Regions from separate parts of the Homo sapiens genome. Here region 2 is linked to region 1. Evidence: fine-mapped expression QTL. A gene starts in region 1. The other region holds a variant in brackets. All regions are shown on one strand. Distances are from middle to middle.

Region 1 (15,971 bases):
AGAGAGCTCACTCTCTCTGCACTCAGGCACTGACGTAAGGCCATGTGAGGATTTGGGGAGAAGACAGACACCTGCAAGCCAGGAGAAGAGTCCTCGCTGTGAACTGAACCCTGCCAGGACCTTAGCACTGGACTTCCAGCCTCCAGAACTGTGAGAAAATAAATTTCTGTTCTTTAAGCCGCCCAGTTTGTGGTGTTTTGTTATGGCGGCCTGAGCTGCCTAGTACATTCCCTCTGTGGGTAACTGGGACTGAAGCCTGCCAGGATTCAGAGTAAAGCATGCACCAGGGACTTGGTTAAACCACCAGGAAATAAACTGTAGCCTTGAGTTTGAAACCTTCAAACAATAATAGGCTATAAATGCAAAGTGCTAGGATGCTTGGCTGTAACTGCGTGGGCAGCACAATCACAGCAATTGACATGTCCTCCAGCCTGCGGTGGCTTCTTCACTCTGAAAAGATGATGGCGACTTGTTAGTCCCTATCACTGAGACACAGAAAGGAGAGAGGAAGCTGGGGTATTTATACACCAATTCCACTGCTCCCAGGGGTATAACTTTCCTGGCACTTCCAACCTGCAGTGCAGGTGGCAAAGCAGGCTCTAGGCCAGAAAGTCCTCGGGCAAAGTCCTCGGAAAGGAGGCTGACTGCTAGGAATTGGCCGCGATGCCCTGGGAGGGAAGGGACATGCTAGGCATAGGTGCCAAGCAGGTACACTTTCCCCACATGTGCTGTCAAACTGTGGAGCAGCAGAGCCCCTTGAAACACAATTTGGGGATCCATCTGAGGCCCTCCCAAAAGAACTTGACATCCTGCCACAACTGTGGTCTGCCCACTCACAACAGAATACCCCTGCCTGGGGGCCCTAAAAAAACAGAGGGTTATCATCTCACAGTTCTGAAGCCTGGAAGTCCAGGATCAAGATGTCAGCAGGGTTGGTTTCCTCTGAGGCCACTCTCTTTACTCTCTTTGACTTGCGGGTGACTGTCTTCTCTCTCCCTGCATGCTCACTTCATCTTCCCTGTGTGTGTTTGTGACCTGATCTCCTCTTACAAGGACACCAGTCATACTGGATTAAGGCCCAGTCCTGATGGCCTCATTTTAACTTAATCATCTCTTTAAAGAACCTGTCTCCAAGTACAGTCCCATTCTGAAGTACTGGGGGTTAGAATTTCAGCATATAAATTTAGGGGGGACACGATTTAGCTCTTAACATGATCTGTGCCTTTGCTGGCACTAAGGCAAGTCACTTAAAAAAGACAAAAGATGCAAGCAGGACTTGCCTCAAACCTGGCCCTGTAGATTAGCACGTCCAACTCTGACATGACTTTCCCAGGCATGGCGGACGCCGCAGCAGAGGCCCTCCCAGCTGGTCCGGGGAGAGGCTCTCAGGGCCACCAGATGCTTAGCTTCCCAGGCCCCGGGAAGGGCCCGCCCTGCCACCAGGCTCGTGCTGCCGCTGTCTTAGGCCAACCTCTCAACAGTCGATTTTCCTAGCTCCCTATTCCAATTTCATTGACCGATTCATCAAAAATAAGGCCCTTCTATCTGCCAGGCAGTGTTCTAGGGCCTTGGAGTTACAGTCACATACCAAATAGACAAACATCCCAGCCTTTGTCAAGCTTGTATCCTGGTGGAAAAGTGGAGAGGAGACAACACGAGAAAGAAATAAAATAGCGCATACATCAATGGTGATAAGTGCTAAAGAGAAAAATAAAGCTGCAAAGAGGACTCATGTGTGTTGGGGTATGCAAGTTAGACAAGGTGGCTGAGGCAGGACCCACTGAAAGTGGGAAGTTTGAGGAAAGACCCAGGGGAGGCAGGAGCCAGTCGTGAGACACGCAGGGGAAGAGCCTTCCGGGTGGAGCAACAACCAGGGTGCTGAGAGGAAAAGGGACAGGAGGGGTAGAGGTGGAGGAGCAGGAGGCCCAGGTGACCAGGAAGGGCAGGGGATTTCAGCTTCACTTTCAGGGAGACAGGATCTCATTGGAGAGTTTTGGCCAAGGGAAAACATTATCTGACTGAGGAGCATTAAGCAGCTGGAGGAAGCCAGCAGGGGAGGGGAGCTCTTGGGGTTACCCAGGTGAGCAGTGACACTCATTTGGACCAAGATGGTTGCAGTGGATGAGGTGGGATTGTGGGGCTATTTTTTTTTCATTTTAAATATTTTTTATGTGATCACTTTGTGGTTGATTCATTATTGGAATTTATTTTCTACAGTGTTCCTCTACTAGTTATTTTTAAAATTGACTTTATTTTTTAGAGCAGTTTTAGGTTCATAGAAAAATTGAGCAGAAAGTACAGAGAGTTCCCATATAACCGCCCCCCCACACCCCCCACCCCCACCCACACACATAGCCTCCCCCATTATCCACATCCTTCATAGGGTGGTGTGTTTTTTACAACTGATGAACTTACGTTGACACGTCGTCATCACCCAAAGTCCGTAGTTGACATTAGGGTTTACTCTTGGTTTTGTACATTCTGTGGGTTTGGACTAGTGTATAATCACATGGACTTACCATTGTAATACCATACAGAATAGTTTCACTGCCCTGAAATCCTCTGTGCTCCACCTATTCTTCCCTCCCTCCACCCTAACCCCAGGCAACCACTGATCTTTACCTTAGAGTAACTGTCTCCACTGCCTTTTCCAGAATGTTCCTAGGGTTGGAACTGTACAGGATGTAGCCTGTTCAGATTGGTTTATTTTACTCAGCAATGTGCATTTAAGTTTCTTCTGTGTCTTTTCATGGCTTGACAGTTTATTTCTTTTTAGTGTTGAATAATATTCCACTGTCTGAATGGACCACAGTTTGTTTATCCAGTCACCTACTGAAGGACATCTTGGTTGCTCCCACGTTTTGGCGAATTTGGATTCTGGATGTATTTTGAGGGGAGAGTTGACAGGATTTCCTGACAGCTTGGATGTTTTGTGAGCAGTGACTCCAAGGAGAATGCCAAGTACTTGGCCAGTACAGCAGAAAGAAAGGGATTCACGTGGGTCTTCACTTGCACAGGGAGACAGGAGATAATGCACTAGAGATAGTGACAAGAACAGTCATCACAATTGTTTACTGAGCCTTAGCTTTGTGCCGGGCTGGGATGAGTATACTGTGTGCCTTAGCCCATATAATGCAGCACTAGCCCTAGGCAGTAAGTGCTGTTAATATTCTCATTTTACAAATGAGAGAACTGAAGCGAGTTGTTTACTTGCTCAAGGCCACATAGGTCTGCTCATATCTGGCTCCCAAGACAGTAAATATTTATTATATAATAATTGGGTTAATGTGAATCTTCCCTTCAAACATAAGCCACTCATAATGTGCTGACATAAATGACGTCTTTGAGTGTGTAATGTTGAAGGTGAGGGCCTAAACCAAGAGAAATGAATGTCGCCTCCTGAGGCTTCTTGGGAGGCAGTTGGCCAGCCATTTCCCCCAGCAACAACATCCCAACATGCTTTTGGCGGCATGAGTATTTTCTAATTCCCATAAAGGGTTGAGTTTGTTGCGCAGGGCTCAGCACACATTAGGTGCTCCATAAACACTGGCTATCGATTCAGAGAGGTGAGGAATGCTCATGAGTTCATAAGAAAACAACTGCTTATAATCTGCAATTTTGCCTGTGCATTTTCCCTATTGATTTGACAAAAAGTATTAACTGTTTTCTATGATCCCTTTGAGTGGATACAAAAGGTGCATCATCACAGCCATCAGTGGTTCTCAAGAGCCATTCCCCGGACTAATCTGAGCCATGGCAGTTTTCACCCATATGGGGGTAATGAGAATAATCAGAACAATACAGTGAGTTTTTACAAAACAAGTTGTGTTTAACGTAAGCACTCTCCTTTTGTGTGAGATATGTCTGTGTGTGTGTGTGTGTGCGCGCTAAAAAGGTCTTTACTGTGAAATGATAATGAAAGTAGCTAGAAGTGTGCTCATTTAAGTGAGTGTGTTCAGCAAAATATAAATTTGGCAACTCCATGTTGGTCTCTCCTTTTTGTACTTGCTGCTGTTGGTGAAATTTACCAATGCATGAAATCCAAACATCAAGGTACCACTGGTCTTACATGATCATTGTAAACTCAGTTATGTGCAAGCCTCAAGTGTAGCATGTAGAATCAAATGTAGAATGATGAAAAGTTGGGATAGATGGGTCATCTTTATTACCAACCAAAATATGTGCTAATCACTTAGCCACATATGACCCTGGCCTGGGTAGGCAACATCTGGAGACAGAACAGAGAACTAACAATTCTTCACTGTGAGCAAGACCATGGTAGAGCTCTTCTCATCACACATTATCACACTCTGGGTACATACCTTGCAGAACTTTGGGCGTAAATATAGTGTCCCCAACCTCTGTGTGTGGCTAAAGGAGTTGAGTAGAAGTGAAGAGGAGGTGCGTCCTTCACAAGCCAGGGCAGGGCCTTGCACCCACACCCTGGGACCTTGCCATTCCTTCCTCTCCCATTTCATTCAGCAACATTTCAAGCCAGTATTTCAAGAGCTACAGAATGTGGACATGCTGAACCATCATGTTTTGGTTAAAATTTATTGATTATAATTGGCCGCCTAAGTCTCCTAATATAGTAAAAGAAAATTTAGAAGCAAAGTAGCACATCAGCAAAATACTCTACTTCCCTGCTTCTAGCCACCCTTGGACTATCCTTCCATTTTCTCTTTTCAAGAAGGCACATCCAGCAGGAGGGCAATAGAATCTAAAAATCCCATCAGAAGAAAAGGCTGTGGCTTTGCTCACAGTACACATTTCCTTCAAACCACACAGCATAGTACATCAGGTACCATTAAATGTAGGTCACAAGAAAAGAGAGAGATTGCAAACACATGATTCACAGTGCATTAAGTGATAGATCTCCCAGGATTGCTCCTTTGCAGAGAAAGCATGTGTTGTCAAGCTGGCCTGCAGACGTTTAACTCTTCAACTCAAGTATAAAGCATTTTGGTTGCACAAACAGTGCTCCCAAGTCATTAGTGATTCACAAAATCAATACCATACCTGATCACTGGCTCCTCTCCTCTAGTTCTTGCCCAGACACAGCGAGGGTGTCAAGACCTGAGAAGATAACTTCCTAGCATCCCTGGCCACAGTGCATTCCAACCCTGAGCTGGCAGTGCACTACCGATCTGAGCGACACTGCCCAAATCAGGGTTAATAGTCTTTATTACAAGGCCAGGCAAGAACAATCTCTTCTTTTTACAACCTGATTGAAACTCCAGGTGAACACTCCCTTTTTACTCCCAAACAATAGTGGCCCAGGCTACTATTTTTGGAAGAAATGTGTACGGTGAGCAAAGTTCCAGCCTTTCCTTCAGATGAGATTTTTAAATTCTGTTGCCCTCCTGCTGATGTGTCTTCTTGAAAAGGGAAAATAGAAGAATAGTCCGAGGGTAGCTGGAAGCAGGGAAGCAAAGTATTTTGCTGATGCCCTTGCTACTTTGCTTCTAAGTTTTCTTTTACTATATTGGCCAATTATTCATAATTGTCCAAACTTGGAAACAACCAAGGTATCCTTCAGGAGACAAAAGGATAAAGAAACTCCACTGGCTTGATAGTTAAAAATTAGATGCCTTTAAACTGTCTTCCAGTGCTTTCAAGAAGTCCCCAAACAGTTATCTCCAGATGCCCAGAAACCAGTCCATGAGTTCAGCCTCTCTTCTCATTGCACCTTTGGAAATGCTGGTCAACACCTCCCTGCTGGCCTTGGCCTTCAGGGCACTGGTGCCCATCTCCTGGTGCTCTGATGCGTCTGATATTCAGGCTAAGAGAGGGTCTCAGGATTCCACCAAGAGGCACAGTCAACAGCTTCTCCCCATGCTGTTGCAAATGCCTGTGTCCAGCCTTACCCGAGCATCCCTGAATGGTCCAGCCGGCTTTCAGCTGTCATCTTTTGCCCATGACCTCGATGAATCTGCCATGACAGCTGTCAGTCAAAGTTGGTGCAAGGAATCAGCCAGGGATCAGTCATCCTCCCCTTTGGATGTAGGGCCCAGGCCTAGAGCAGCCAGCAAAAGGCCTTTGAGAATATTTGCAATGACATCAACAGGAAAGAACTCCAGAAGCAGATTCCTGAGGTTTTACTGAGGTCCTATTAGATTATAAACAGGTTTCAAAATTGAAATGATAATGGAGTCCTAGAGTAGACTTGTGTAGGACAAGCTCCTGTCTTTCTAAAAGAGATGCAAAGCTGGGTCTTCAACCTCTTACCTGAGAAGAGACATTGGATGGATGTAGGATTTCCATAAGCCCATTTTAAAGCTTACTATAAGTGGCACTTGCTCTCTAGGTGGTGTAGTCCAGTGGCTCAGGAAGCAGATCCTGGCACCTAACTGCCTGGCTTTGAGGGCAGGTATAGAACCTCACTGTGTGTCACCTCCCTCAGTCATACATAAGGTAATAGAGGTGCTCTACCTTGTAGGGTTGTTGGGAGGATTAAGTTAGAATGTACTTGGAAGGCTCCTAACACAGTGCCTGGCACACAGTGAGTATTAATAAATACTGGATATCCTGTTGTTGGCAACTAGAGGCCTGGCCCTGCTGGGCATGAGTGAGGCGGTTAAAGTTTGCAAGGACCTGTGGGCAGCCCAGGTCTCCTGGGCTCATGACGAAGGCCTACATTCCTTTCCCATTGCTGCCCTCACACATTACCTCAAACTGTGTGGCTTAAAACAACACAAATTATTCAGCAACAATGGACTTTTGTATTTACCCAAATGAGTTGAAAACTTATATCCACACAAAAACCTGCACACAGATGTGGATAGCACTTTATTCATAATTGGCCAAACTTGGAAACAACCAAGATGTCCTTCAGTAGGTGAATGGATAAAGAAATCCAGACATTGGAATATTACTCAGCAATAAAAATACATGAGCTATCGAGCTGCGAAAAGACATGGAAAACCTTTAAATGCATATTGCTATGTTCAAGAAGGCAATATGAAAAGACTACGTACTGTATCATTCCAATTCTATGACATTCTGGAAAGGGCAAATCTATGGAGACGGTAAAAAGTTTAGTCGGGGATTAGGGAGAGGGAGGGATGAATAGGCAAGCACGGAGAATTTTAGGGCAGGGAAACTATTCTGTATGTCACTATGATGGTGGATACACGTCACTGCAGATTTGTCAAAACCCATAGAATAGACAACACCAGGTGTGAACCCTTATGCAAACTATGGATTTTAGTTAATAATAATGTATCAGTTTTAAAAACCCACTCATTTGTTCTGGGGGTCAGAAGTCTAAGGTTGGCCCACAGACCAGCATTCCTTCTTGAAGTCCAGGGAGGAATCCCCTTGATCTTCCCAGTTTCCAGAGCCTGCCAACACCCTGTGGCTCCCGGCCCCTGCTCTGTCCTCACAGCAGGCAGAGCAACATCTTCACATCTCTGTCTTTCTCCCTCTGCTTCTGCCCTCACATCTCTTACTACTGACCCTAATCCTCCTGCCTCCGCCTTGGAAAGACCTTGGTGATTATACTCAGGACCCACCCGGATCCAGAATGTCCTCCTACCTCAAGACGTCTAATCACTTCTGCAAAGCCCATTTTAACAAAAGTAACGGTCCCAGGTTCCTGGATTTAGGCCCTAGATATTTTTGGGGGTCATTATCCAGCCTGCCAGAAGGATCGAGAGAGTTGGAGGAGTCGGGTTAAGGGTTGGGGGCGGGGGAAGATGCTAGGAGAAGAGAGAGGGAGCAGAGAGGGAGCAGAATGGTCCCTGTCTGCTGTCCACACCATAAAGCACAGACAGCAGACTGACGGGTAGCTCAAAATCCAAAGAAAATGAAAAACTATTGCTCCATGCGCTTGTGTGAATAAAACATTTCAGAAAGTAACACCTCATTACTCTGCCTCCTCCTCTCAAAAAAAATCCCAACTAAATTTATTAAAATATATATTAACAAAAAGTTTACAGCAGCTTTCTCTGTAAGAGTACATGACATATTACACTTTAATTTTACTTGTAGGCTCCAAATTTTCTGCAATAAGTATTATTAGTTTATAGTCAGAAAAAAGATATTTCTTAAAAAAAAAAACACCAGAATATATGTAGAAATGAAGTAATGTTAGTGTTGACAACGGAGCTCTCTTTTCGCACACAGAACCGCAGACTAAATATTATCTTTGTGTAGTATGTCCCTCCCGTCTTTCTTTCTTTCTTTGATATTTCCATGAACTACCTTTGCCCTCTGTTAAAATGGAAGTTTAGAGTGAATTTTAAAAGGGGAAGGAGGGATGTGTTGTGATTTTTCATAGTCTCCTCCCTCTCCTTAAATAGCAACATGGTATTATTTTAATGGAGAACTAATTATTAAAATGTGCTTTTGAGCCAGCGTTTATCACATGGCATGTACAAGAAAGTTTGTCATGGTTTTAGTCACAATAGCCAAAACCAGAAAACAACCCAATGTGGATCGATAAGAAATAGATGGAAAAATGGCAGCATATTTGTTGTGGTCTGAATGTTTACCCCCAAAATTTCTATGTTGAAACTTAATCCCCAGTGTAGTAGCATTGAGAACCGGGGTTTGGGGAGGTGATTAGGTCTTGAGAGCTCTGCCCTCTTGAATAGGATGAGTGCCCGTAGGAGCTTGTTTGCTCCTTCTGCCAGTAAGGACACAGGAAGAAGGTGCCATCTGTAAGGAATGAGCCCTCACCAGACACTGAATCTGCTGGCACCATAATCTTGAACTTCCCAGTCTCCAGAACTGTGAGCAGTAAATTTCTTTGGCTTACAAATCACCCAGTCTGATGTATTTTGTTATAGCAGCCTGAACGAACTAACACAATAGTCCTACGATAGAATTCCATACAGCAATGAAAAAGATTAAACTACTGCTCCTTGCACCAAATGAATATGTCTCATTAACATAATGTTGAGTGAAAGAAGCCAGACATGAAAGTGTACATACTGTATGATTCCATTCATATAGAGTTCAAAAACAGACAAACCTAATCTGTTATATTAGAATTCAGAATAGTGGTTTCTTTTCAGAGGATAATTATTGGGAGTGGGCAAGAGGAAGGCTTTGGGGTACTGGTAATGTTCTATTTCTCAAGATGGATAGTGGGTACATAGATATATCTATCTGATATATCTTCATGGTACTGTATACTTGTGAAATATGCACTTGTCTATATGTAGGTTATACAGTTATAAAATTTACTGTCAGATGAAGAGATCAATAAAATCAAACTTTAATTTGGGATTATAGTGTATTCTTAGGTGTGTTATAGACCCTTGGCTGGACAGACTAAAGCATGGTCAATCTATGGTTCAGATTACTGCACCAATTAATCAGATCTATGGAAACTGGGTAATAATCATTAACATAAGCAAGAAAGAAGCTGACTGGTAAAATTTCAATACAGACACCATGTGCTGTGCAGTACTGGCTCAGTTTATGACTTGCTCCAGCCAGTAATCTGTGACAGTCTCATGATTTACAAATACAGTTACAAGAAGGGGCTAATAAATGTGCCCTCAGGGTTTAAGTTGGCAAAGATGCCATGTGTGATTAAGACAGGCACCGAGCCTTTCTCACATAAAACAGTCATCGTTACTATAGGTTGTGAAAATGCCAGATCATGCTTGAAGGTTTACAACTTCTTGCTGAAGTTATTTTAAAAAGTGACAAAAAAGGTAAGTGATGAAAAGGCAATAAATGTCACACTTCTGAGGGCATCTGCGGCAGTGTCCTGTCATGGGCGGTGAATACATCGAGAAGACAGCTTTGCAGACAGCTACTCTATGGCCCTCGTTACTGAGGCTGTGCAAAACGTCCCCATTGGCTCACCCAGTTCCAAGCTGTGGTGAATCCCGACCTCCAGACCTGGAGTTGGTGTGCCTGGTGTCCCAACTCACTGTTCCTCTCAGAAATGCCCATTTGGTGAAGTTCAGAGGGATGCCCATCACAAGACACCACATGAGATCCAGGCCTGGCCAACTGATCCACTCTTTCCCTTTAGCTGCCATTGTTGGTTGTGAGCAGGGGGCGCAGCCCAGGCTGGGGCAGAGTTCTCCATGGGAATTCCACTCACAAGTTAAGAATACAGTCTTAGAATGCAAGCCCAGGGCTGCCTGAGGCCACTTTCCATGACTGCCTGGAAGAAACTTGTCTGGGGTAGAGAAGTTTGAGGCACACAGACACAGAGAAGCAAAGACAAGCAGAAATAAATCAGGGCAGGGCTGACTGCCAGCCACCTGTTTCCTGTAGCTTCTCCTTCTTTTATGTGAACCACTCCAGATCTTTCCTAGTCATGCCAGACAACAAAACGCCTTTTTTTCTTAAACTAGTTTGAATTGGATTTCTGCTCCCTGGCAACAAAAGTCCTAACAAATAAACCAATGAACATAGAATCCGGAGTACAGGGAAGTTACAAGTAATCATTCCGGGGGGAGTGGGGACAGAACTGTGAACACAGTTGCTGTTACCAACAGGGGAGCTGAGTGTCCACATCAGTGTTAGCAGCTAACTCCTGGGCTCTCCCCAGTGACGGTATCCAAGCCCCAGGTGTAACTTGCCTCAGTTTCCTCCTTTGACTCCTCCCAGGTTTTACAAATTTTTTTTACAAAAATCTGTATACCTCTGCCATTCACCTCAATACTTTTTTCTCTCCTCCAACACTCAGCTCTTTTTTAAAAAAAATTCTCAAACACATTAACGACTGAATTAAAAAGTCCCACCCCTTTAAGCTCCGTGAAGTCAGGGCCATAAACCATGTCAGTGTTATTGGCTAGAATAGTGTCTGGCTAGCCCTATGCATTCGCTTTCCCTAAACTGCAATGCCAATGTGAGGTGCCCAAAATTTTGCCATGTAGGTTGAGCTATATTATGCCAAAACTACTACATGTTTGTTAAGTGACTGTTCATTTTTCATCGCTTCATTCTAAAATTCTTTGATGCATCATGTAGAATTGAGAAGAAGATTACATCCCTTCATGACAGCATTTGCTGCCTGGCATTATTGTTGATTTGTGTGTGTGTCACTACCAGACTGGAGACCGTGTCTTACTGAATTTCTATGCCCAGCCCTTAGCCCGGTTCTTGGGACACACACGAGTCTGATGCCTCCCCACCATGAACAAGCCACTCTGAAAACTCCATAGAACCTTGCTTCTCAAAGTGTGATCTGTCAACCAGCAGCAGCAGCAGCATCACTGGGGAAGAGGCTTGCAAATGCAGAAGGTAGGCCCACCCCAAGAACTACTGAGCAGAATCTGTCAAGGTAAAAAGTTCAGACTATTCTGGAGGTAGCAGGAGGTCTTGGACATCATGGAATAGATGTGCCAAATCGAGGAGGTTGGGAAAGGGAGAGGCAGGTGGGTACCAGAAATGCAGGTGAGAGGGGATGAGGGCCTCAACCAGGGAGCTGAGGATGATGAGAAGTGGCATGCAGGGAGAGCTGGAGTGACCTTGCAGAGCCAGAAACTGATTGATGGAAGAAGGGAAGGAGAAGCGGGAAGAAAGTCAAGGGTGATTGAGGCTCCGAATCTGTTGGGCTGGGGTAGAGAAGACGTGAGCACCAGGGGAAGGCAGGCTGGTCAGCTGATGATGCCCCTGTAGGGTCCCTTGCCTGCAGACCATCTCCATTCATACAAGAGCCCCTGGGCAAGTGGAAGAAAAGCAGTGGGAAAACCTTCACCTCTGACAGGGCAAGACAAGACTATCACACTTTTTCCTTATCCCATCTTTAAACTGGAGGATCATCTTGGAACTTAAGATCTATGAGGTGCTCTGGTTTTTATATCCAGAGGAGGCATGGGATCATAAAAGCAGACAGCTATCAGGTTCTTCATCTTAGAATCCATTGATGTGGCAAAATGAAAAAATAAATTAATAGTGCCACTTCAGTATCTAAATGAATTGGGGTTTGGCCAATGTCTGCAGGAAGCTTCTACAAGAACTCAGTAAATGATTTCCATTTGAAAACACAGCTCAAAGAGCGCTTAATAAGTGCAATTTGGTGATGATAATGATGATCCACAGAGCAGCAGCATCTATCCAGTCAAGCAAATGTTCCTGGGGAACAGTGATAATGAACCAGGTCCAGGACCATGGGCAATTCTAAAAGAGCGTGCGGGGCATTTTGTTGTTTTAAAGATCTGCTTCCCTAACCTGTCCACCCCGCATCCCTGCTGCTGATCGTGAATATCATCCTAAGCAATTCTTTTGGCCCTGAATGTAGTGGTTTAGGTAAAGGCGTGGAAAAGCCAGGACTGTAGAGACTTGGAGCTCCCCAGGGAAACCACAGGAACGAAATAGGTCACAGGGCTCCAGGCAGCGCTCCCCTGCCCCGCCCGGTGCAAGCCCGGGGCCGCCGGCTGGGGTGGGGCGCGCAGCGCGGCAGGCAGGCAGGGCTACCATGCAGTTCTCAGCCTCCTGGCTCCTTCGCCCCTCGCCCCGCGCCCCTGGGCCGCCCTCGCCTGCCCGCACCCTAGAGCAGCCCTGACCCGTGGGGGCGCGCGGCCTCGCGGGGATCCCGCGGGCGGGCGGGCGGCCGGGCGCGCGCGGGGCGGGGGCGGCGCGCGCGCGGGGAGCGTGTGGGCCGGGCGGGCGCGGCGGGGAAAGCTGGGCGCGCGAGCCGAGGCTGCTGCTCACCTGCAGCCGCGCCGCTCACCTGCCGCGGAGTGCGCGCCCCGCGCCCTCCCGGCCCGCTCCGGAGCCCGGCCGCCCCCCCCTTGCCACAGCGGGCAACTGCGCCGACATGCGACACGAGTAGCCCACGCGCTTCGGAAGCACCGGAGGAGCCCCCTCGGCCTGGGCGAGCCAAGGTGACCCCCTCGATGACCCCCCCGCCCCCGCGGGCCGCCTGTCCCCGCACCCTGTCTGTCCCCCTCGCGTCCGACTCCCGTCCCCGCCGCCAGGGAATCGGCAGCAGTGCATGGGCATCTGTCTGTCTGTCTGTCTCGGTACTTCCATTGCACACACCTCCCTCTCGTGGCCCTCCCGACTGCCCCGTGCGCACGGGGGGAGTCTGGAGCCCCTCTTTGTTCCGGTCGGGGGTGCGTTTGAGGATGTGCACGCGCGCGGGGGATGCGTTTGGAGGGTGGGAGTTCGATGGAAATAGGCGATTTAAATATTCCATCGAGGATGGCGGCCCCTGGCTCGAGACCTGCCGCTGCCGCGTGGTTTTCTCGGCAGCAGCCCAGATGTCAAACAGTTGTTCGTTTTCAGCATGCAAGATGTGATTTTCCAATGTGCATTCCCAGCGCTGTTGCAAACAGACCGCCGCGAGTCCGTGTGTGCCTGCCTCGCTCACGCTGGTGTTTTGAAGTCCTACCCTGTGTTTTCCCCAATGCCAAACGGCATTTTTGTTGTGGGGTTTAAACCACAGAGACTTTGGCTTTTGTTTCATTTCCCAACAGTTCCTCATTCCCGAAGCTTGTGGCATTTGGTACTGGTATCTGAGCAGGGGCTGGCTTTCTGTTTGTCTGTGTGTTTTTTGCATGATCTTGGATTGTCACCCTGCTGTATTTAAACATTAAAAAGCCTGTCTTTTCGTTGAAGAGGACAGGGGTTAAAATGAATGAAGACCTGAAGGTCAATTTAAGCGGGCTGCCTCGGGATTATTTAGATGCCGCTGCTGCGGAGAACATCTCGGCTGCTGTCTCCTCCCGGGTTCCTGCCGTAGAGCCAGAGCCTGAGCTCGTAGTCAACCCCTGGGACATTGTCTTGTGTACCTCGGGAACCCTCATCTCCTGTGAAAATGCCATTGTGGTCCTTATCATCTTCCACAACCCCAGCCTGCGAGCACCCATGTTCCTGCTAATAGGCAGCCTGGCTCTTGCAGACCTGCTGGCCGGCATTGGACTCATCACCAATTTTGTTTTTGCCTACCTGCTTCAGTCAGAAGCCACCAAGCTGGTCACGATCGGCCTCATTGTCGCCTCTTTCTCTGCCTCTGTCTGCAGCTTGCTGGCTATCACTGTTGACCGCTACCTCTCACTGTACTACGCTCTGACGTACCATTCGGAGAGGACGGTCACGTTTACCTATGTCATGCTCGTCATGCTCTGGGGGACCTCCATCTGCCTGGGGCTGCTGCCCGTCATGGGCTGGAACTGCCTCCGAGACGAGTCCACCTGCAGCGTGGTCAGACCGCTCACCAAGAACAACGCGGCCATCCTCTCGGTGTCCTTCCTCTTCATGTTTGCGCTCATGCTTCAGCTCTACATCCAGATCTGTAAGATTGTGATGAGGCACGCCCATCAGATAGCCCTGCAGCACCACTTCCTGGCCACGTCGCACTATGTGACCACCCGGAAAGGGGTCTCCACCCTGGCTATCATCCTGGGGACGTTTGCTGCTTGCTGGATGCCTTTCACCCTCTATTCCTTGATAGCGGATTACACCTACCCCTCCATCTATACCTACGCCACCCTCCTGCCCGCCACCTACAATTCCATCATCAACCCTGTCATATATGCTTTCAGAAACCAAGAGATCCAGAAAGCGCTCTGTCTCATTTGCTGCGGCTGCATCCCGTCCAGTCTCGCCCAGAGAGCGCGCTCGCCCAGTGATGTGTAGCACCCTTGCACCCAGGAGGACTCTGCATTTACCAAGCACTTCCACTGCCTGGCCAAGGTTTGAGATGCTTCCCTTGAATTCCTTGCATTGGATTCCCTCTCAAGCCACAGGAGCACTTAGCATTCGTGAAACAATGACATCGTTCAGATGAGTTAAGTGATTGAAGTGAAAATAATGTTACCAGTGTTTTCACCATTAAAAAAAATTGTTGAGCTCTCCACTCAACATTATTTTGTTTTGCTTGGGGGCAAGGGTTTCCTTTTATACTTTGTTTGGAGGGCTGACTGGGGGTAGGAAAGGAAGGGATATGATACGCCCATGATGTTATTAGAAGTAAATGAGTTTCAGAGTTTTTACCTGGACTTTAAAATAAATTTGAGTGATTGAGGAAAATTGAGAAAGACTTACTTTTTCCAGACTATTTTTTTTTTTTACATGATGGTAGATTTTTTAATGCTGCATGTATGTAACAGAATATGACCCCTTTCAATCCAATACAAATAGTTTACATAATTGTGTTTGGAAGGGACCTGATTTTGCTAACATGAACTCAGTAATGTCACCGACACTGAAACCGTGAACCCATTCTTATCCATTCTTTCTTTCCTTTCGGCAATTACTGTTCACGAGAATTCCTTCGGTATTTCTATAAATGTTGCAACTCCTTCTGCATGGTCGACTGTGTTAGCTAGACCACTTGTTTCAAATGTTGCCATGTCAATCTAGATTCCAACGGGTCATTTTTCAATATAGTTTTCCAATATGTACTTTCTAAAATGAATCCTGAAGTAGGTTTTGATCTTCATATGAAGTAGGATTGATTAGATCCACCATTGTAGTTTCTTAAGCTATTGTCTGATTGTTTTCAGAAAACAAAAGGAAAAAATATTAGCAATTGAGAGTAGATTAAATTTATTTTAATATATTCTGAAAAAAACTAATGTGACATTATCATGAAATGAAAAAAATCACCTTTCCTCTCTCTCTGAGAATATACTAATGGTTATTCTTGATTGAGATAATTAGAATAAATATTATAGGCCAAGTTTTTCTGGTTCATACTGTCTGTGGTGCATAATGCATTTGAAACAGGCAGTCCCCTATTTTAATGATTAGGTTTGTTTGTCAGTGCACAGCGTCCATCTATGACTGTGACATATACCAGCTATATCCTGTAAGGTCATAAACAGAATGACCATTGGCTGTTGATGAAAAGTTAAGTTTGAAATCTTTTAACTCCTTTTCACCAAAAACCAATTTATACACAATAAAAATCACATTGCCTGTTTTCAGAGAACAAGAATGTAGTCAGGAAATTGCAAAGAAGAATTCACTTTAAACACATTGTAAAATCGATGTGTCTCAGGTTTCTTTTCTGTTCATGCAGACAAATGTAGACGCAGGTACCTTCCCTC
Region 2 (15,971 bases), 45 kb before region 1:
TCCCAAAGTGCTGGAATTACAGGCATGAGCTACTGCACCCAGCTGACAGTATATTTTAAAAATCATTTCTATGTCTTCTCTATTCAATTGGCAGGTCAACAATGTAGCGTCATTAACATCAACAGGTGGAATCCAGCCCCTGTACTAGTGTAGGACAGGTGCGCTGGATATCCTGTCTTTAAGCCCAGGAGGACTAGATTGGATTGCATCTTTAAGCATCTTTCTTGCTGCAGAAAGGGAAGTGGATAGGGGAAAGTTAGGGGAGGTGGGGAGATAAATTAGGTGGCCCTTAAAGGAGCCCAGATGTCCTAATGTCAGACAATGGTTGTGGGGTTGAGAGAAGTGGTTAGATTCAAAGGTATTTGGGAAGTAGACACATCTGCCCATCACAGCCTCCCTGGTTTCTCAGCCTTGCCCTGATTGTGGTTCTGATATTCCCTGGCACTGAGCTGCTCACCTGGAGGGTTCTTACGCCTCTGGTTCCCTGAGTTTGCCTCCTCTTTGGCAGTTTCTTGCCCTGAGCCCCAGCCCTGCCTCCCCAATCTGCAAAGTCACGACAGGAACAGATGCATTTGTTTGTGTAAGCCCAAGACACTTTTTTTTAAAAGTGCTTGCTATGCTCCAGGATTGGGCTAGGCTCTTGAATGTGTTTTCTTGTCGAATCCTCCCAATAATTGTAGAAAATCTTTATCATTCCCATTTTACCAACTAGAAACAGAAGGCTCAACTTCCTGAATAAGTTCACACAGTTACAGAGTGACGTTAGACAGGAGACAGATGTGTCTAACTTGAAAATCCATGCTTTTCCCAACACATGGCCAGGTATTACATTTAACTCTATTATTAAGAGACTATATTATATCATTGCCTGCCAGTGAATGATTATAAATTTAGGTAACCTTGAGCAGAGAGGTGCTGTCTTGATTCTCAAGCAAGACATAAACATTGCTACAACGTGGCATCAGCAGACCTAATAATGAAGACATTTCTTTAAATGTAAAACAATATGCTGAGAGAGATACCATGAACCGTCTCTATGTCACCCCCCCAGCCCTCACTATTTTTTTTTCCTATTAGCTCATTACTGCTTGTTTTGAAACCAGCGGAAAGCTGACACGGCACCAATTTTGTTCTGCAATTTTAACATGTGGTTGATTGTTTCACTGCATTTTAACTTTCTGTCTAGCTCAAGAAAAATGTGGTTAAAAAAATACTGGAACTGTTTTTGGACACTATAAAAATGTTGCCATTTAATCATAAAACTGTGAGCTCCTTGGGGGCAGCAATGGATGTTTTTATCCACCACTGTGTACCCAGCTTGTGGCACATGGCTCGGGCTCCGGAATGCGTGTCAGATGACACTGAACTGAAGGAATTCTTCACGATCACCCAGTGCAGCAGCCCAGGCCTACAGCAAGACTGCATTTGATCCTTCACTGCCTTTAAAAAATCTCACTGTGCCCTGCAGCCAGCATCATGGAGAAGCAGCCCCAAGACCCCCTGAAAAGTTAGTTCACCTTTCTCCTGAACCGTTTACCCTGACCCATGTCGCTCACCGACCTGCGATTTTCTATTGGGTCTCCCACCTTTTGACCGATCCCCCAATTAGCCTCCCAAAAAATGGACTTTGTTAAGGGTTGAATTGTGCTCCACTGCAACTTCATGTGATGAAGTCCTAACCCCAGTGCCTCAGCACGGGACCTTATTTGAAAGTAGGGTCGTTATATGTAATTAGTCAAGATGATGTCACACTGGAATAGGGTGGTCCCCAATCCAGAATGACTGTGTCCTTGTGAAAAGAACACCAGGTGAAGAACAGACACACAGAGCGCTGCATAAAGATTGGGGTTCTGCTGCCACAAACCAAGGAATTCCTGAAAGCCAGGAGAGAAGCCTGGAACAGGTCCTTCGCCAGTGCCCTCAGAGGTTGCATAACCCTGTGGACACCTTGATCGTGGACTTGGCTGCCAGAACAGTGAGACAGGACATTTCTGTTGTTTCAGCTGCTCCATTTGTGGCATTTTGTTGCGGCAGCCCCAGCCAGCTAGCACAGCTTGCTGACCGGGCCTTGCACTTCGCGCCCATCTTGCTGGCCACCCTCACTTTCGTCCCAGCCCTTCTGCCTCTGGCTACTCTGAGTGATCAGCTCACCTGGCCAGGCTGCCACACCCAGATGGTGTCCTGTCCCAGCAGCACTGACATAGAAATATAACAGAGCTGTTGTCCCACTGACAGAAATATAACAGAGCTGTTGTCCAGTTGCTACTTCTGTGTTTGATACCCGAGTGACCATTCCCCTCAGAGGTAACTTAGGGTGAGCAGGGGGTTGGGGTGTGGCTCCTCAGGGAGCATCTAGGGACCCCCCTTCCTGTGCTCCACCACTTGGAGTCCACTGGCTTTAATAATGGGGATCCATTATTAAACTCAGAGAAAAATGACTGACCCCAGTAGAAGCCTACAGCTTGTGACTGTGTTTATGGATCCACCTGGCATCCACACCTTCCCTTCCTTTTCTGACCCCGATTAGACTGCACAGCCCTCGACAGGCAGGAGCTGAGAGGAGATGCAGGAAGACCCTTTCTCCTGGGACACTTTGCTGCACGATAAGTTCACCAGGATTGACGTGCTCTTCCCTAGGCCTGTGATGACGAATGCTGCAGCCAAGAAAGACAGACATGCTGCAAGCATTCAGAAAATAGAGTGTCTCATTCTCTTCCAGCTCTGTGCTGCTGTTATTGTTGTTTAATCAACAACCACAGTTGTAAATCTGTGCCCCTGCAGCCCTGCAGTGCCCTCTCTGAGAAAGCCTCAAGACCTTGCTCCCAGTGGGAGTGCAAGACACGAACCAGTGCTCATGAATTCTTGATGAAAGACCAAAGGCCATGACCTAGTGGTCATCTTCTGATGGGCATTATTAGGAGGCTAAGAAAGAGGAGTAGCTGGTAAAGATGTACCTGACTTGTTAGCAGATTGTTTTTTGAAAGTGGAGAATTATTAGTTAGATAAGAAAGCACCAGAGCCAGACTCAATGCTGACTTTCATTCTGTGAGTGCTCCGGACACCCCCATCTGCAGGGTTCCACTTGGATGGTGCTGAAGGAACCCCGTGTGCCCTGCCCAGCAAGTGGACAGAGGAAAGGATGCATCTGACCCTTCACCACAACACCTCCACATCATCTCCAGGAAGAGAACACAAAACCCCAGGAAGCAGCCAAAGCAGCTTGGAGAATACAAGGATAAGAATGTAAGTAAAGATTGCAATTCACCTGAGAGGTGTGCAGCTGTGCTGAAATCAGTTACAACGAATGAAATCACAAGCAGGTGGGTGCCCACGGGCCTGACCACCAACCACCCAGCATATGCCCAGAGTTCTTGGACACAAAGGGTCTCTGCCCTCAGGAAGCTTCAAATGGGGCTGAGAAGATGGGCGTGTACATAGAGAGCAATTGGAGGGCAGGAGAAGACCGAGGGAAGGCGAGAATCCCAGCTGGATCTTCTCTTTGGGTTGGAATTTTAGGGGGCAGTGAGACAGGGAGAAAGGAAACTCCCACGGGAGCAGGGCCCCGGCCTCACGAGCCCCAGGAGCAGAGAGAAGCAGCCAGCAGGGTGCCTGGGTGTGGAGGTGAAAAGACGTGCACTTTGGCATCAACTAGACTCGCATGACCCTGGGCAGGTGACTTCACCTCACTATGCCCTGCAGTTTTCTGCGGTAAAAAGCAGGATAGTATCTACCTGTGGAAGCTTGATCTAATAACTAAAACAAAATCATATATGAACAGGGCCTAGAACATAATAGGCCCTCAACCAAGAATAGCTACTTATTTTTAGCAGAGACAGTGTTTCACCATGATGGCCAGGCTGGTCTCAAACTCCTGACCTCAAGTGATCCATCCCCCTCAGCCTCCCAAAGTGCTTGGATAACAGGCATGAGCCACTGCACCTGGCATACTAAAAATACAAAAATTAGCCAGGTGTGGTGGTGTGCACCTGTAATCCCAGCTACTAGGGAGGCTGAGGCACAAGAATCGCTTGAACCTGGGAGGCAGAAGTTGCAGTGAGTCGAGATCGTGCCATTGCACTCCAGCCTGGGTGACAAGAGCAAAACTCCGTTTAAAAAAAAAAGAAAAAAAGAAAAAGAATAGCTATTTATAAGAGAAGCTTAAAAAGCTTAAACTCTGCTTATCTGACAGACAATATGGGGGTGGTCTCTGTCTAAATGCCCTGCCCCACCGCCCCCTGAACTTGCACACCACCTGTACTTTCTAGAAGTGTGGCTTCAAGGAAATTCGCCAGGCAGAGGCCCGAGCATCCCCACAAGGATTAGATCACAGATGACACGGAGCAGGGCTTTCTGGGGCCCAATGCCTGCATCACACACTACAGAATAAAAGTTATTGCAGAGAGAGAGAGAGAGTGACGAATGGTCAAATCTCCTACCTGATTATTAGGTAAAGTGAAATTTAGAGAGGAAAGAGTTTGTAATCAGACGAAGCAGAGAAACTGACCAAGAAAATTGATTATGTCGCGAAATGTTTAACCTTACTGACACAGGGCTAGTTCCCTGCAGAATGCTATAAATCAACAGGGACGTGTGCCGGCTGAGCCGGCGTTGGCAACCTGGATTTGCCCAAGCAGGAGGCAGAGCTGGCTCTTGTGCAAGAAGAAACCTGCTCTTACTGGAGGAGACGGAAGAATGTAGTTCTTTTCCTTAACAGAATGCCAAAGCCCTGTACGTGTTCTATAAGAAAGAAAATCCACAAATTCAAATACCTTCTTGATTTACTTTAAAAAATATATCCTTTATTTATGAATATAATACAATAAGCAAAAATTCTACAGTTTCTTTGGAAATAAAAACCATTTATTAGCCATGACTTTTCCTGACCTGAAATTGCTGACAGCTCTTTGTTGGAAAGTAACATTTCATAAGATGCTGAGTGTGAAAGCATAACAGATGGTAAACAGGTTTCCTTCCAGTCCCAAGACATGACTATTATAAAAGGAATTGTGGAGCTTAATACTGTATTTAAAGCCAATTTTGAAAATTGACTAAGTCGGTTCTGTTTCTTCCATTATTAGTTAGACTTTTTTCCTCTCAAAAATATACTTTTTTTGTGGGCTTATTTCTAATTTTGACATTTGTCAAACTTGCAAATATAGATGAGAAAATAGGTAGCATTTCTAGATGAAGAAGTACAATACCATTAGAAATAAAATCTAAACTGGATCAGGCGTGGTGGCTCACACCTGTAATCTCAGTACTTTGGAAGGCTGAGGCAGGAGGATCACTTGAGGTCAGGAGTTCAAGATCAGCTTGGGCAACACAGCAAGACTGCCATCTCTACAAAAAAATTTTAAAATAATATTTAGCCAGGCATGATGGTGTGAACCTGTAAACCCAGCTACTTAGGAGGCTGAGGTGGGAGGATTGCTTGAGCCCAGGAGTTTAAGGCATCGTGAGCCAGGATCATGCTACTACAATCTAGCCTGGACAACACAGTCAGGCTCTGTCTCTAATAAATAAGTAAACAAATAAAATAAACAACAACAAAAAACTGACAGTTGCTGTAGACAATGAGCACCATGGGCCATTAGCAGGTCCCAGGAATGGGTCCATTTGGCCCCATCATCAAACTTTGGGCCTGTGCATGAGTCACTCAGCTTTACAGGTAAAGCCTCACCTGTAAATGGAGATTAAAATAGTAACACTTGCCTAGTATAATATGTGATCTACGACGTATTATAAACTCCCTACCTTTGTGTTTGTGGTTAGATGTTGTCTAAGAAGACAACTTACCAAGGCCTCACTGACCACGGGACAAGATTGGTTTCAGCTTCAGATCAGGAACTGGGTTTTGTTCAGTCTCTTAGGGCCACCTCCCACCAACCATGCTGAGAAGAACTGGAAGGGAGATCCTTAGAGAAATCACCTCCACGGGGCCCAAGAAGCTGACACCTCCATTTTATGTATTTTTCTTCTCGTAGTATGTCAGTCAATCAGGATTTAGTTGCAGAAGACAGATACCACCCTAGCTATTTCCAGGATATAAGGATTTAATACAAGGATTTACATTCTTACAAAACCTTTGGAAGGTCAGAGAGTCACCGCAATACCTCACCACGGGCTCATAGTTTCTGCTCTTAGAAGATTAATGGAAAGGACTCAGAATGTCTTTCTTTCTTTCTTTGGTACCTGCTCATGCTTGCTAAGACTTGGCTGTAAGTCTCAGGCCACCCCTTGACAGTCCCCTGAATGGTCCCCCTGAACAACCCTTGCTTTGGGACCCAGGACCATTCAGAGATGAAGTACCAGGCATCGAGCAGGAGGAGTGGGGTAATATCTGCACATTATTGCCACTGTATTTGGTCAATATAAGGGGGGGGGGTAAATCCCTTTCTTCATCTTGTCTTTATCTATTGGAGGCTTGCAACGTTCATCCACTTGCAATCAAAGAGAAACAAAGTCAGTTTTTGAGAGTGAAGGCAACCTCCACTTGGCAGCCCCTAGAACACCATACAGCAACCAAAATGGCAAATTCGTGACTCACTGTGAGAAGTAAGCCTGCCAGATGGACTGGAGTGTGCAGCCTGGGAAGAGGGGCCACGGTATTCTTTCCAACAGAGAGTCAGGTGCCACCCTCCGGACAGCACTGGAGACA[C/GACAC]AGCCTTATTCTAGCCTTCCTACCCACCCCCATTGAAGGGTCCCATCAACCATCTGCTCCTAGTCTTTCTTCAGCTATGGCACCATGCCATCAATTAGAATTAGGCTGGCTTTCTCCATTCACTTGAAATCACTTGAGATAATCCTTCTTTTTTGAAACACCTCCCAACACACCAGCTGCCAAAACCATTTCTTGGGATGTGACATTTCTATAAAAGTCTGGTTCCGTCCCTTTGGTATGGATTCTTCCTAATTTTGCTCCCAAGGGGAACCCCCATTTGATGTTGACAGAATGTCTCCTCAGTCCTTCCACCGTGCAGCAGACATTCACTGAGAACTGCCTCCAGCTTTCCCAGCATTCTGCAGTTGATACATGAGAAGGGTAAAGGGCTCAAAGCACACACTTCCTCACAGGCATTCAGAGGCTGCCCTTATGGGCAAAGGTAGAAATGAAGAGTAGAAAATCATGGTAGGAGGAAGGAATGCACTCCCACCAGACTGGGGGAAGGATGCCTGGGGTCTTGGACCAGGGAGAGGAATGGAGGATACCTCTCTCTGGATGCACTGAAGAAGTTTGTGTTGACATAGGAAAGTTGGTTTAAAGACAAGGAGGAGTTGAGATGGAACTAAAGCTGCATTTGGCTTTCCTCTTCATTTATGTCTTATCTGTCTTCTTTGCTTACCTTCTTTATTCCAAGTATTCATTGTTTTGCTTTAGGTCCTGAAACAGATCTTATTTTTTGTCTTTGACTTCAGATATTTATTACCCCAATACTCTACTTATCTGTAGAATATTGGAGTAATAAATCTTAAATGGTTACTTGTCTTTAAATGGTTAAACAGTTCAGAAATTTATTTTCTGTAGAATATTGGGGTAATAAATTTCTGAACTGTTTTTACTCTTACTCCATTAAAAAAATTTTAAATGTACTTCTTTATGTGTGTTTCAATTTTTAAAACTGTCTCAAAACTATTTTGCAAGAAAGTAGGACAACAACGTGTGAAAAAAAAAAAACCAAGTTACCGATGGTTATGTCAGAAGTATCTAAAAGGAGTCAGAGAGGCATGGGAGTTTGACCCCAGCTGTAACCAAACTGTAGGTTAGTTGTTTGCCACCTGCAGAGTCCACTTTTCAAGAGCAAGGTCTGGTATAAAAAAAGTGATTTATTCCAAGGCTAGCTTAGGGGAAGAAATACGGGCATCCTGCCTTAAGTGTATTGCTTCACTTTTGGAGCTGACAACGGGTACTTTTAAAAGGCAGGAAAGGAAGCAATCAAGTGGGGAGTCTTTGTGTTAGCTCTGGTGTCTTATCTACTGGGCAGTTCAGCTGGTGACTGCTGGCACCTTTGTGGGCAGGACTAGGCCAAAAACTCCCCAAATAGGAGGGAGTTCCAAGGCAACCTCCTGGTGGGTGAGAATTCTGTGCTTTGCTCTGTAAATCAACTGCTAACTCTCCTGGAGAGTTCTGCCTTGGTGCACATAATCAGGTGAACTTGTCCTGTAGGGAGTGTCTGGTGAAGGGGAGGTAAAAGGTCATATTTGCATTTCTAAAGGGCCAAGTAGGAAGTCGGGAACAGTGGGAAAGAAGGAAAGAGAAGAGAAGAGAAAATTAAAAAAATAATAATAACTCATTCTCTTTTTCTTAGAAAAAATGGGAGTACTCAGTTACATAGCTACATACACACCCGGTGAAATCTGACCTGTTAGGCTGGGCCAGATATCATAAAAGCAGCCACATTGGACTTTAGCTGCTTCTACTAGGCTTGACCATCAACCTCCTTGGGAGAAAACTACATGAAACTAAATTGATCAACTAAAGATATCCTAAACTGTTAATCAGCCATTATCAATCATGAACTGTGCTAAAACCGTCCAGTGTATAAACTCACTCTAGCTCCCTTACCAGCCCTTACAGGACCATTAATTATTTGCTAGATCTGTGTCTCTCAATATGCAATTCCTAAGACTGATTAAAATGCCTTTTCCATTATTTGCTGCTCTGCAGAGTTTTATTTCTTATTAGGTGACAAATGTATAAATGGCAAATAGCTAAATATTTATTTGATGGCTTTTTACACATATACTCTTCTACTGCAGTATGGCATTGGTAAAAAAGCTGCAGTGATTTCTGCTAGGGGTGCTAGTAGGCTATATTATTTTATATCATTATATCACATAATGTATCACATTTATGCTTTAATTCATGCATTTATCCATTCACTCTACAGAAATGTATATTAAGCATCTACTCTGTGCTAGCACCATCCTAGGTGTGAGGGATACAAACATGAACATTACATCTGTGATGTTGTGATTTATTTTATATATTTGTATATTTATATATTTGTATCCTGTATATTTATATATTTATTGTGTGTGTGTGTTTGTGTGTGTGTGTGTGTGTGTTTATATAAATATGGTCTTCATCTCTACTTGGCTCCTGGAACCTCTGGAATCTCCAAAGGGATACGTATCTGTATTCTAATGATTGACCTTTGGCTGGGGGCTCCTGGATGGCCTCAGGATGGGATCAGTTGCCAGGGGAACCAACCATGTTATTAGAGGGTTGGGACTTTAAGTTTACCCCAACCTCTGGGAAGGAAGAGGGACTGAAGGTTGAGTTGATCACCAATGGGCAATGATATAGTCAATCATGCCTACATAATGAGCCTCCATAAAAGCCCAAAAGGACAGGGTTCCAGGAGCTTCTGAATATCTGAACGTGGAGGTGACACACCCAGAGAGGAAAAGGAAATCTCTGCGTCTTTCCCACATGCCTTGCCCCATATGTCTCTTTCATCTGGCTGTTCATCTGTATCCTTTCTAATATGTTTCGTAATAAACCAGTACATGTAGGTGAAGTATTTCCCTGAGTTCTGTGAACTACTGTAGCAAATTAATCGCACCTAAGGAGGAGGTCATGCAAACCTGCAATTTATAGTCACTCTGTCAGAAGCACAGAACACAACCTGGGGCTTGCAAGTGACATCTGAAGTGGGGAGTCTTGTGGGACTGAGCCCTCAACCTGTGGAATCCAACGCTGTATCCTAGTAGATAGTGTTAGAATTGAATTGAATTGAAATGGATTGAATTAAAGGATGCCCAGCTGCTGTGCATGGACAAATTGACCGCGTGCTGCATGGGGAAGTGCCCCATACATCTGGGGTCAGCAGTGTTGTGTTGAGAGTAGGAAGAACACTTTGGTTTGTTTTTTTCCTATATCTCTTACAACATTTTTCATGTTTTTAAGAATTCACTGTTTTGATTAATGTTTCTTGGAATGTAGTCCCTGGATGCATCAGCATCCCTTGAAAACTTGTTAGAAATGCAAATTCTTGGTCCTTACCTCAGACCTACTGAATCAGAAACTCTGAGGGTGGAAAGGAGATGGCAGGAATTTGTGTTTGAATAAACACTCCAGGTGATTCTAATGCATGCTGGAGTTTTAGAACTACTGTTCTAGGGGAAAATAAAAAGGGAAAACACAATTCTCTGTGATAAATGTCAAACTAGAGCTGTACTCCAGGTGCTATGGGGACCCAGTAGAAATCACCAGGGAAAGGCAGGGAATGCATCACAGAAGAGATGACATATTAATCGATTTGGAAGATGACTGGGACTTTGCCAGGGAAACAAGATAGGGAAGGGTATTGTAGGCAGAGGAAAGGCAAGAATATGTGAAACAGTCTGAGTGCAGTGACTCACACCAGTAATCCCAGCACTTTGGGAGACTGAAGTGGGCAGATCACCTATGGTCAGGAGTTCGAGACCAGACTGGCCAACATGGTGAAACCTCATCTCTACTAAAAACACAAAAATTAGCTAGTCGTGGTGGCACACGCCTGTAGTCCCAGCTGCTCAGGAGGCTGAGGCAGGAGAATCGCTTGAACCTGGGAAGCGGAGATTGCAGTGAGCCAAGATTGAACCACTACACAATCTGGGTGAAGAGCAAGACTCTGTCTAAAAAAAAAAAAAAAGAATATGTGAAAGAGGAGCATGTGTGTTTGAGTAACTATTGGTAGTCCGTGTAGTGAGGGTTTTAAAAACAGGATACTCAAAATGGAATGGGGTTGACTGAGACTGAGTTCTCAGTTGAAGGGGAAAAGCGGAGTCCATATCATAAACCTGTCTCACTGATTTGACCTGAATTTCTCTCCCTCTTTGTTTCCTTGGTAGTGTCTTGTGAAAGTTGATATCACTGTTGTCAACGAAAAGAGTCAAACTCTGAAAAATATTTGAAGAGATGTATTCTGAGCCAAATGTGAGTGACACTAGCCTGTCACTAATATGAGTGACTCAGTCCTTGGGAGGCCCTGAGAACATGTGCCCAAGGTGGTTGGGGCACAGCTTTGTTTTATATATTTTAGGGAAACATGAGACATTAATCAAATATATTTAAGATATACATCGGTTCAGTCCAGACAGGTGGGACAACTCAAGGGGCAGGGTGGGTGGGCTTCCAGATTATAGGTAGATTTAAAAATTTTCTGATTGATTGGCAGTTGGTTGAAAGAGTTATTATCTATAGAAAGAAAAGTCTAGGTAACAATAAGAGGTTGTAGAAACCAAAGCTTTACCATGCAGATGAAGACTCCAGAGAGAATAGATTGTACATGTTTCATATCAGACTTAAGGTCTGTGTTGATGTTAATGCTGGTTGACTTTTCCTGAATTCCAAAAGGGAGGAGGGCATGATGAGGCATGTCCAACACCTCCCTCCTTGTCATGGCCCAAACCAGTCTTTCAGATTAAACTTGGAGGGCACTTGCCTAGAAGAGAAAGTCCATTCAAATGACTGTGGCAGGGTGGGGGGCTTCAAGTTTTATTTTTGGTTTGCCCTCTCTAACAACATATATATCTTTATCTAAGTTTGGTAGTACCAGTGGTATCCTACATTACCTTTTCTCTTAGAATGCCTTGATATGCACCTTAGGAATGCACTTGTAGGAGTATGTCATGACTAGGCAGTTAGACAGGTACATGGATCCTTTCTAGCTTCCCCATATTTGCAGTAATTTTGTGTCTGCTTCATTTTGATATAAGAATGTTGGGTATTAATTAATGACCCTGAGCATGTCTGTATCCTAATCAATTCATCTCGGTTTATTAGCTAGAACTGTTTGTTTTGTTTCAGTGGTTGCTCTAGGATTTGCAATAAATATCTTCCATTTATCACAGTCTACCTTCAAATAATGTTATACCATTTTTTGTATAGTTGAAGAACTTTTTAACAGTATGCTTCCATATCCCTCTCCTGGCCTTTGTGCTATGATTGACATACACTTTAATTCTACATATGCTATATATCCCTAAATACATGACTAATTATTACTTTGCTTGAAACAGTCAACTATTTTTTAATCAATTAAAAAGATATTTGATGTCCGGGAGGGAGGTGGGGGGTCAGCCCCCGCCCGGCCAGCCACCCCGTCCGGGAGGGAGGTGGGGGTCAGCCCCCGCCTGGCCAGCCGCCCCGTCCGGGAGGGAGGTGGGGGGCGCCTCCGCCTGGCCAGCCGCCCCATCCGGGAGGTGCGGGGCGCCTCTGCCCGGCTGCCCCTTCTGGGAAGTGTGGAGCCCCTCTGTCCGGCCACCACCCCGTCTGGGAGGTGTACGCAACAGCTCATTGAGAACGGGCCATGATGACAATGGCGGTTTAGTGGAATAGAAAAGGGGGAAAGGTGGGGAAAAGATTGAGAAATCGGATGGTTGCTGTTTGTGTAGAAAGAAGTAGACATGGGAGACTTTTCATTTTGTTCTGTACTAAGAAAAATTCTTCTGCCTTGGGATCCTGCTGATCTATGACCTTACCCCCAACCCTGTGCTCTCTGAAACATGTGCTGTGTCCACTCAGGGTTAAATGGATTAAGGGCGGTGCAAGATGTGCTTTGTTAAACAGATGCTTGAAGGCAGCATGCTGGTTAAGAGTCATCACCACTCCCTAATCTCAAGTACCTAGGGACACAAACGCTGCAGAAGGCCGCAGGGTCCTCTGCCTAGGAAAACCAGAGACCTTTGTTCACTTGTTTATCTGCTGACCTTCCCTCCACTATTGTCCTATGACTCTGCCAAATCCCCCTCTGCGAGAAACACCCAAGAATGATCAATAAAAAAAAAAAAAAAAAAAAAAAAAAATTAAAGTAGAACAACTTAGTTGTACATGGTTACAAGAAAATTTAATAGAAATAAATTTAAGAAATAAATTTAAATTAAAAAAAATAAAATAAAAAGATATTTGAAAAAGTGAAGGGAAAATGTATTTTCCACATACCCACATTTTTGTCATTTTCACTGCTCAACATTCTTTTGTGCAACATCCAATTCCCATCCAGCAGCATTTCTCTTCTACCCCCCCCCAAAAAAAACACCAAAAACTTCCTTTAACATTCCTCATAATGCTAGTCTTCTGGTAATTAATTCTCTCAATTTCTAGTTGTCTGAAAAAGTCTTTATTTTGCCTTCATTTTTTGAAGTTTTTTTTTTGACTATAGATTTTATATTAATAGCTTTCTCTTTCAGTATTTTAATAATGTGATGGAATGGTCTTCTGATTTGCATAGTTTCTTATGAGAAATTTGCAGTCCTTATTTCCCTTTGTGTTAATGTCTTTTTTCTGCTGCTTTAAAGATTTTCACTCTATCATTTGTTTTGAGCAATTTGACTATGATGTGCTTTGGTGTAATTTGTAAGATATTTTTTGTGCTTGGGGTGTGTTGAGATTTTTGTATCTATGGGTTTATAGTTTTCATCAAATTTGGACTTTTTTTGGCCATTTCTTCAAATATATTTTTCTGTCTCCCTTGCTCTGCTTTTTCCCCCATCAGAGCTCTAATTATACATCTGTTAGATTGCTTGTTTGATATTAGCTCACAGCTCATTGGTGCTTTTCTCAATTTTTTACAATCTTTTCCATTTCTGTTTCCTTTTAAATGTTTCTACTGTTGTATCTTCAAGTTAGTTCATTGGTCTTTTCTTTTGCAATGTTTAATCTGCTGTTATTCTCATCAACTGAATTTTTCATTTAAGATATAATATTTTTTATCCCTCAGAATTAGATTGGGGGCTTTTATGTTCCATGTTGTTCATCATGTTTATGCTTTCCTTTATCTTCTTGAAGATAAGGAGTATGTTCATAATAGCTGCTTTAACATCCCTGTGTGCTACTTCTACCATTTGTATCTTTTTAAAAATCTATTTAGGCCAGGTGCAGTGGCTCACACCTGTAATCCCAGCACTTTGGGAGGCCGAGGTGGGTGGATCACCTGAGGTCAGGAATTTGAGACCAGCCTGACCAACATGGAGAAAACTGGTCTCCACTAAAAACACAAAATTAGCTTGGCATGGTGGCTTGTGCCTGTAATCCCAGCTACTCAGGAGGCTGAGGCAGGAGAATCACTTGAACCCAGGAGGCTGAAGTTGCAGTAAGCCGAGATTGCACCATTGCACTCCAGCCTGGGCAACAAGAGTGAAACTCCATCTCAAAAAAAAAATCTACTTAGATTATTAATTTTTTTCTCCTAGTGATAGGTTATATTGCCTGCTTCTTTACATTCCTGGTAATTTTTAACTGGATGCTGAGCAGTGTAAATTTTATGCTTTTGGTTGCTGGATTCTATTGTATTCCTTTGTATATTGTTAGGTTTTGTTCTGAGCAGCAATTTAATCCTTCCAAGGCTTGCTTTTATTTGAGGCAGATCTAGGGCTAATGTGGTCCCATTACTGAGGCTACCACCTCTGAAACCTCTGCTCAATACTGCTTGTGTTATGAGGTCTTTCCACCCTAGTGGGTGGCAGCACAAATCATTCCCAGCCCTGTGTGATCTCCAGGGACTGTTCTGCCTGCTCCTTTCTGGTTGCTCTTTTCCTGGCCTCAGGGAGTTTCCTTTTACGCACACACAGATTTGTTCTCATCCGTAATCTCAAGGGGACCCCTCTGCAGATCTCTGGAGCTCTCTCTTTCTCTCTGTGAAGCTCCCTCCTCCCCAGTATTTTACCCTGGAAATTCCAACCACTCTGACCTCCCTGAACTCTGAATTCTTTCTCCTCCACTCAGCCAAACCACCAGCCCTATCTAGACTCCCTGTCCCTGAGCTTCAGCCTGGAAACTCTCTCCATGCAGTAAACTGAGGGAATTGTAGAGTTTGCCTCATTTACTTCCCAATGAATGAATGAAAGCTCTTTTGTCATACACATTGCCCAGTTTTCTAGTTGTTTAAGGCTAGAGGGAATCCTGTAACTCCGTCATGGTCAGATGATATGGAAGTTTCCATGCCCTTATTCAGATGTGGCTTCCAAGGACCACAGATCAAGAAGCCGAGGGGAGAAGAATGAGACAACTACACAAGAACCTAGGAACAAATATCGACGTGTAATGCCTTCACTTTCTTGTGGAGGGTCCTCTCAGTTTATTATCAGACCTAGGCTGCTGTGGTTATAGAGGGGGCGGCTGAACAACAAGGAGACTGTGGACGATTTTGAACTGTGCATTGGGTTTGGTGCCTGCTGCACTCATCAGTGTTTAGCTGTATGAGCTGGGCTGGAGATATCCCATCACATTGTGTTTTCCCACAGGTATCAGAAAGTCCACACAGTCACTTGGGATTCTACCAGATAATTGGGTATCTGTCTCTAGAGGTTTTTCTTGTGATCCTGAAAAAGCCACAGCTCCTGGTGTGCTCATCATTTTCAGTGTAGGTAGGGTATCAAGTGCATGGGAGTAACTCTTGAACAGAATGATGAAAAAGAAGGTGAAGTCTGATCATGAATGGCTTGAATATGAAGCTAGAGAATTCTGACTTCTATCACGTGGGTATCGGGAGCCACCAGGGGGGATGAGCATTGAGAGATATAAGAGCTGCTGTTCATTTTACAGACATGTTTTCGGAATCTACTGGTTCAGGAGATGCAGAAAAAGGTATCAAATTAGTATACTCGTATAAAATCAAATATTCAATGGCTTCACTAATTGGAACTTTGAGTAAACTCTTTTATACTTACCTGATAAATGAGCTGAGAACAAAGAATAAAGAGATGACTTTAAGAATGCACTGCCCTTAAAAGTAGTAAGTTTGGTCCTCAACCAAAAACTGAGTAAAAGGCTATGGATTGGGAAATCTGTAAGCAGGATTAAATGCATAGAAAATAAACCAGAAAGCACTGGTTATAAAACAGAAAGCACTGATAGGGTAGAAATGCCCCCAGAGCTATATTCCAGGGTGGGCTAGCCAGGCAGCCAGACTCAATGGGGCTGTACTAAATGTAATGAGATACACAAATTTTTATTTGCTACAACCTCTCAAGCATGTATTAGATGTGGC

Direction of the effects. Alleles are on the strand shown, and positions count from the first base shown. SD is a standard deviation of normalised expression in the study named.
For the expression in neural progenitor cells of the gene that starts at base 12,593 in region 1, C is the low allele of the variant in region 2 and GACAC is the other (large effect, 0.88 SD a copy in Aygun 2021).

What was found.
Region 2: its variant is fine-mapped to the expression of GPR12 in neural progenitor cells (Aygun 2021, PIP 0.95).

What each region holds. Positions count from the first base shown.
Region 1 is chr13:26,757,408-26,773,378 of GRCh38, reverse strand. It overlaps GPR12 (G protein-coupled receptor 12), which reads left to right and starts at 12,593. Exons shown (of 2, transcript NM_005288.4): 1 at 12,593-12,800; 2 at 13,537-15,971. The coding sequence starts at 13,552. The coding sequence ends at 14,556.
Region 2 is chr13:26,802,482-26,818,452 of GRCh38, reverse strand. No RefSeq gene overlaps it. Among named protein-coding and RNA genes, the nearest start is that of GPR12, 50 kb to the right of the region's middle. The variant C/GACAC (reference allele first, on the strand shown) is at 6,659.